2 linked regions of the Homo sapiens genome follow. The protein of the gene in region 2 purifies or fractionates together with the protein of the main gene of each other region. This does not show direct contact. Each region holds a gene or a part of one and is shown on either strand. Other genes may lie near its edges.

Region 1 (3,614 bases), on a different chromosome or scaffold from region 2:
AGCCTGGGTGACACAGCGAGACCCTCTCTCAAAAAACAAAAGAAAACCCAGCCTGGTGACTCCCACACCAAGACCACGGCCTGGCCTCGCTCGACCACAAGTGTTTCACGGAAGCGCAGACCGCGACCTTGGAGTGCCGGCCTTTCACCTCTGCAGTTGTGTCCCTGGCGGTCTCACCCGCCCTGCACGCAGTACAGTGCTGCCTGCTCCAGGAAAGGAACCCCAGGCTGTGGGGGGCACCCTCTTCCCGGAGCCAGGCTGCGAGCTGCACCACGGTGCACACCCATGGAGTGTAGACCTGGCGCTGCTAGACCCAGCTGGGCCGCCCCGCTGGACGCGGCTCCTGCTTCTGCTGGCATCAGGGCCCCGCAGAGCCTCTTCCCCTGTGGCCTCCCCATGGGATCCTTTTAGCCTTTCTGCTTCCCAGGGAGGCTGAGAACAGGGAGCCTTCTGGGGACCGCTGGGCTCGGGAGCTCAGGTTGCTGGGCTCCTGGAAGGTGACTGTGAGGCCCGAGACTGGGCAGCGGGGCAGGGCAGTCCTGCGGAGGCGGGAGTCGTGGAGGCCCCGTCAGCCCCTCTTCTCTCCTAGGCTCCTACAACCCCCTGACCCTCGGCCTGTTCACGCTGGTCTACTTCTTCCTGGCCTGCTGGACCTACGGGCTCACGGTGTCTGCCGGGGTCTTCATCCCGTCCCTGCTCATCGGGGCTGCCTGGGGCCGGCTCTTTGGGATCTCCCTGTCCTACCTCACGGGGGCGGCGGTGAGTGGGGCCGGAGGGGAGGCTGTGGGGCCCTGCAGCTGAGCCAGGTCTTGCGGCATCGCGGGCCGGAGCAGAAGTCCCAGGGCAGGACAAAAGTGTCGCACCTCACGTGGTTCACGGGCCGTGGGCGTTGTCCTCGCGTGGTTCACGGGCCGTGGGCGTTGTCCTGCTGTGGTGGCAGCGTGTACTGTGGCAGCGCAGCCCATGTGTGGAGTCTGGACCAGGCGAAGGTAGGGGGCGGAGGCTCGTGTCCTTATTCTTGAGAATGTGATGAAAAGCAGAGGTGATTGTGGGCTGCTGCAGAGCTGTTTCTAGACTCCATGGGGTGGATGTCCGGCCAGGGCTGCTCTCTGTGAGGCCGGGGGCCAGAGCGGCATACACTGCCCTCCAGACCTCAGCCCCCGCAGGCCTTCCTTCTCTGCCTGCCTCTGCTGGGACTGGGTTCTCTTATGTGTCTTCTGTTTCTCATTTCAGTCGCTTAAATAAGACTGAAAACCTGTAAGAGGCCCTGGCAGGAAGCCCCCGGCCATGCTTCTCATCCCCGGCAGGAAGCGCCCACTCCTGCTCCCCAGGCCCGTGTGCTCTGCCCATCTCCCTCCGCACAAGGGTTTGGTTTGGTTTTTAAAATTGAAACATGATTCAAATACCGTAAAACTCATCGTTTTAAAGAGGGCAGTTCAGCGGCGTTTCTCACGTTCACGAGGCAGTGCGGCCGTCACTACCACTTCTAGAATGTTCCGTCATCCCAGAATGGAAACCCTGTGCCCACCGACCCTCGTGCCCCGCTTTCTGCAGCCTCCATGCCTGGGTTCTGTGGCCCAGCCTGATGTTCCCGGGGCTCTCTGTGTCGTGTGTGCCGGGGTTTCACTCCTCATGCTGGACGGTGCTCCCTAGTTGGCCTGGGCTGCTGCGTGGTGACTGTGCCCTCTGCATCCTCCATGCCTGCCACTCCCCTGTTGCTCGGGTGCTGAGCGCCTGGTTCAGGCCAAGGATGCAGCCTCCGCAGCAGGGTGTACTGTGCTAGGTTGTTCTGTGTGTATGTACGCGGCCACGAGGTTTGTTCCTGGCTGTGGGGCTGCTGGGCCTGGGCAGGGCCTCCTCCGTCTGTGTATCTTGGTGGGTTTGGGCCTGCCACCACACTGACACCTCCTCCGTGTCACCTCCCACAGATCTGGGCGGACCCCGGCAAATACGCCCTGATGGGAGCTGCTGCCCAGCTGGGTATGTCCCAGCTCTTGCCCGATGGGTGGGGAGCTCCACGGGGTCTGGAGGGGGCCATGGCTGTCCTTGCGGGGCTAGGGTCTGGGAGCAGGTGGATGGGATGGGTGCTGCAGAGAAGGCAGTGGCCACGTGACCCTGAGCCAGGAGGGTGGACGTGCTGGGGTTCATGATGGCTCCCGCAGGCGGGATTGTGCGGATGACACTGAGCCTGACCGTCATCATGATGGAGGCCACCAGCAACGTGACCTACGGCTTCCCCATCATGCTGGTGCTCATGACCGCCAAGATCGTGGGCGACGTCTTCATTGAGGTGCGCCAGGGCCTCGAAGCCTCACCCTGAGAGCGTGGGTGCTGCCATAGGGGAGGGGCCCCTGTGAGCCTCCAAACAGCCGGTCCCGGGGGGTAGGCTCAGGGTTTCTGGGGGCGGCCTCTGGGCTCCCAGGGGTAGGCTCGGGGCTCCAGGGGTGGGTGTGGACTCCTCAAGCCCTGTGTTCCCGCCCCGCCCGCAGGGCCTGTACGACATGCACATTCAGCTGCAGAGTGTGCCCTTCCTGCACTGGGAGGCCCCGGTCACCTCACACTCACTCACTGCCAGGTACAGCGCCCAGGACACCTGTGGGTGGGGAGGGTGTCCAGCGGCCTCTTGTTGCACAGGGGCAGGGTGCACGGCTTGCGGGCTCCAGGCAGCCCCGCGTTTCCTGTCCAGCGGCTTCACACCTCACCAGCCCGCAGAGGTAACTGTGGGAGTTGGTGGCGTGTGACGGGCATGTGTGGCCGGGCTCCTCCGGCAGGGAGGTGATGAGCACACCAGTGACCTGCCTGAGGCGGCGTGAGAAGGTCGGCGTCATTGTGGACGTGCTGAGCGACACGGCGTCCAATCACAACGGCTTCCCCGTGGTGGAGCATGCCGATGACACCCAGGTACCGGGCACCCCATAGACAGGGTCCTGCCTATGTGACCTCTGTCGAGTCCATTGGTGGGAAGCACACGGCAAGGTTTGCAGGATGGGGAAGCTGCACGTTTGGGTGCACTGGCAGTTCCAGGAGTGCCGGAAGCTGAGTGTGCAGCCATGGAGGGCTGTGTGGACGCTGAGGCTGGTGGGGGGGGCTGCGGCCTGGCAGGGTCTTGGGGTTGGCACCCAGGCTGGGCTGAGAGCCGTGGCACTGGGGGCCGTGACTTTGTCAGGAGGCCCTGACAGGACACACAGCTCGGCCACTGCTGTGTGTCTTTTAGACGTGGACACTGGGTGTTTGGAGGTTGGTTTTTATTGGGACCCAGTGGGGCTGCATCTGCCCTGCAGCAAAGCCACCATCCCTGGGCCCTTGGCTCTCTGCTGTGCGCGGTCAGGCCCCGCTACCCTGTCGCCGATCCTTGGGTCCCGTGGCATTGTGCGTGTGGGATGCCATGGCGAGGCTGGTGTGAGCAGGTAGCCACCGACACGGGGCCCATGCCCAGATGGGAAATCTGGCCGGAACAGGGTCAGAGCGGGGCCCGACACAGCATTCCAGCGCAGCCTCCCACCCTCGGGCCCGTGGCCCTGACCGCGGGCCTGTCTTGCAGCCTGCCCGGCTCCAGGGCCTGATCCTGCGCTCCCAGCTCATCGTTCTCCTAAAGCACAAGGTGCGTGCCAGGC
Region 2 (3,817 bases):
CCGTTTCTCGGGAGCAACACCTGAAGGCATTTAGTACCTTGAGATGTCATAAAGACCACAAACTGATTGATGCAGCATGACTGCACCATAGCACATAATGAAAGTTGTGCACATTTCCAGTACAGTTGACTACAGCATATTTCTTTTTGTGTAACTGACAGTGATAGGTAATATATGATGTGATTCTGATAACTGGCATCCAGTTCTCACTAAAGACTTGGTGAAATTAGAGGGACTGCCTCTTGCCACGTTCTCTTCTTTTATTGTCTACTTTTGAACTATCCGCAGGTCATTTGTATGTCCCACAGGAATATAGGATGAGTGTTTTCTTTCTTTCCAAGGCCTTTAATACAAATTGCAGAAAATTCTCTTTTATAATTCGATTTTACATACAGAATCCCCATTTATTATGTTATTAAGGATGATTCTTTATGTTATATCTGCAGAAAGCCTCCTATAAGGATTGTTTTTATAGAAAGGTGATGTTTTTTCAGGGTCCTGCAGCTGATTTCCATCTCTGAGCTATCTCTGATTGGAGGCTTGTGTCTTACAGCCCTCATCACCATCCTATAAGTCACAGTGAGATAGCTGGAACCATTTCAAGTCTAGATTTTGGTAGAAAAATCAGTGTCCAGTTTAGATTTCAAACTAAAAGAGAGTTCTTCTATTCAGGATATTTAGATTACATGTTAATTTCCCTGTACCGTTATCAAACTACACTTCGGCTAGAACAATTTACAGTATCACTTCCCAATAATTAATTTCATACTGCTGCCACTAGTAGTTACAAATTAAATTTTAAAAAGAAAAGAAATGGATACCTTCATATTAACCTTCCACTGGCAAATGCTTTTTATTCTCCAAATCATTGTTTCTTTTATGTCAATTTTATATTTAGGGACCAACCTGGCTGGTAGGGCCTATCAACCTTTGCCTTTAAATTATCTCCTAATTTTGTACCTTTTTTTCGTACACCATCATTATTGCCTTAGTCGAGGCCACAACTTTTCCCTAAATGGAACGTCTCATTCCCCAAATTTGGTCTTCCCCTACTTTATTTTGTTTTTCTATGGCAATATCTGACTGTTTTAAGATGTTTATGTGACTCCTTTATTTTGCCTTGTTGAGTATCTAGTTTTTCAGTTCTTTCTTTTAGTCTTTCTTTAGATTCCCTGACTTTTCTTTCCCACTGATGACACCTTAGTCATCACTGCCTACAGGTCCCCACACACTGAATGACCTTCTAGGGGCCTGTCCTTCTCTAATCTCTTCCCCATGTAATCTGTCTTGGATACAACACATGAGGTCTCCTTGTGACATAAACATCTGGTCTTGTCACTTGTCCCTTTGATTTCTTCAGAAGCAAACCCTGAGACGAGAAATCAAGTGCATATACTTTATTTGTAAGGTAGAAGAAGGGATATGATAAAGAGTATGGAAAATGAGACGGGAATGGGAAAGCAGCCATTAAAAGGTTACATTATCAAGCCAGTTGTCACTCGAAGCAGCTGGAGCTTAATCTTCTTGGGGAAACTTTAAAAACCGGTGTAGAACACGCACCTCGAGAATAATCTCATTCAGAGGACTACGGAGCTGGAGTATTAATGCACCAAATTTGGAGCGTCATTGGTTGAGAAATGTCGGTTATAATCAAGGGAGAGCAGTGTTAATTTTCTGGACCTGGCCTGCCCCATAGGCAGCTGAAGAGGCTTTAGTGGCCAGAGGTAACTCAGGCAAAGAAATACAGGTGCTGGCAATTGGAAGTCAGGGTAGCATGTACTGAAGTGGGGAAGATAAAAATATATGGATAGGACACCAACCGCATATACAATTACAATAACCTCGCAGATGGTCTCCCTAGAGAAACAAAAGTTTATTACTTTATGAAACACTATGGTATTATAGTATGAACTAAACAGCCTTGTGCATGCGCCCTTCATTTTACCCATGCAAATTGCTTCTAGTCATACTCTCTTAATAGCTGTAAGCACTATAGAATATGCTTTGTCTTCCTAGACGTCTTTTCTTTCCTCTGCCTCTTCTGACCACCTTTCATCCATCCTTTAAGAACCAATTCAAATGATGTCCCTCTGAAGCCCTCCTTTCTTTCTCTAAGCTGAATCAGTACTTGGCACAATGTTTGAGCTCAGTAAATGTGTGTTGAACATATTATAAACAAACATGCATGCCTCTACTATTGCTGTTGAATGCATTGATTTATAATTACTTGTGTGCCTGTCTCCACCATCAGAGTATGAATCATCAAAGGGCGAGGGCCATGTCTTATCTATCTTATCCCCTTCATCTAGCACGTAGGCACCCAATATATGTTTATCAAAATAGTGAAATGTCCTTCTTAGAAGAAAATATTGAATATTTCAATATCAATGCTTTGAATATTTTAGTGTTGAAAACACTGAAAAATATCCCTTTAAAACTAGAATAAAACACAAGAATTAGTAGGTCTACATTCCCGTCATGCCTCTGATCCACACAATTTCATGGTTAGTAGTTTCATTGCCTGTTTTCAAAAAAGTGCAGGGGGCATAAAATGAACCCCAAATCTCTTAAGATTCTAAAATGTTCCAGAGCTGTACCTATGTTATCTTTGAGGAAGAGCATAGAGAATACCATATCCAATGCCTATTTTGTTTCATTGATTGGTAGTAAAATAGAAATATAGTATAATGGCATTTTCCTGACTTCTGAACTCTTTATGTTTTTTTTTTCTTCCCTCTACAGCATCTATGAAAGGCAAGGAGGCATTTTTACCTACATCTGTGAATTTTATTACATGGAGAAAATTATTTACAAATGCAGAATTATATTTTTCTCAGTTTTGCTATTACATTCATTTTTCTCTGTGATTCCAAAGGGAGTCGAATAATTCAGAGGCATGAAGTGTTTTACAGTAATTTTTATTGAGCTCCAACACAATAAAAGTCTAAGAAAGTTGTTCGGGAGAGTATGCCAGTAGGGCCTAATGGAGTTGTATTTCCATTTTTCCACTAGAGGGAAATTATATCATTATATTATACCATGGAGGCCAAATATTTGCTAAATAAAACACGTTGAAATGAATATTAAAAGCAGCGTAGGTAAACACCTCACTCCAGGGACTAGTCAGTTCACAAAAGAAGCAGTGTAATCATTTTAGAGTAATTCAGATTAGTTATTACTTCTCTGCTCAAACTCTTCTACCAGCTGCCTGTCACACGTAGAATAAAATCTAGACCCCAGATATGGTTCACAGGCTGTCCATGAACCACGAAGGGCCCCTGCTGTTTCTTCCATCATATCTCATGCTTCTCCCTTCCTGCTCTCTGTACTGCAATCACAGCCTTCTGACTTCTGTTCCAGTGCACCAGATATGCTCCTGTGATGGGAGTTTTGCAGTGCCTATGCCTTTCACGTGGGAATGCTCAGTCCCCACTATGTTGTTCTGCACCCCCAATTCATTCAGATCTGTGCTCAATATCTCCTCCTCAGAGCAGCCTTCTCTCACGATTGATCTAAAAGAGCAGCCCTCATCCCTGTGTTCTGTCTGCTTTCTTGCATTTCTTGTCTCTTAGCAATATGTGACATTATATTCTATATTTGTTTACTAATGGACTGACTACCCATGAGAGTAGCAGCTTTGTCTCTTTTGATAGCATAATGCCTTAAACTGTATCGCTTTAGAAACATTCAGATATTTATTGAATGGATGCATTTATTGAATGAGTAAATGAATTACTATACCTAACCCACATTCTTGTTTCAGTCATATCCTGGTAGGATCAGTACAGATTTGACGAGTGAACAGAGTATAGAAACC

The links.
Region 1: the proteins of TMEM47 (region 2) and CLCN7 purify together in Homo sapiens (affinity purification with mass spectrometry; one large-scale study listed by BioGRID and IntAct). This does not show direct contact.

The regions. Positions count from the first base shown.
Region 1 is NC_000016.10:1,447,642-1,451,255, reverse strand, and holds part of CLCN7 (H(+)/Cl(-) exchange transporter 7), read left to right. Parts: intron 1-589; coding exon 590-759; intron 760-1,928; coding exon 1,929-1,980; intron 1,981-2,162; coding exon 2,163-2,290; intron 2,291-2,489; coding exon 2,490-2,575; intron 2,576-2,771; coding exon 2,772-2,901; intron 2,902-3,541; coding exon 3,542-3,601; intron 3,602-3,614. UniProt on the Homo sapiens protein: Slowly voltage-gated channel mediating the exchange of chloride ions against protons. Functions as antiporter and contributes to the acidification of the lysosome lumen and may be involved in maintaining lysosomal pH.
Region 2 is NC_000023.11:34,632,980-34,636,796, reverse strand, and holds part of TMEM47 (transmembrane protein 47), read left to right. Parts: intron 1-3,817. UniProt on the Homo sapiens protein: Regulates cell junction organization in epithelial cells. May play a role in the transition from adherens junction to tight junction assembly.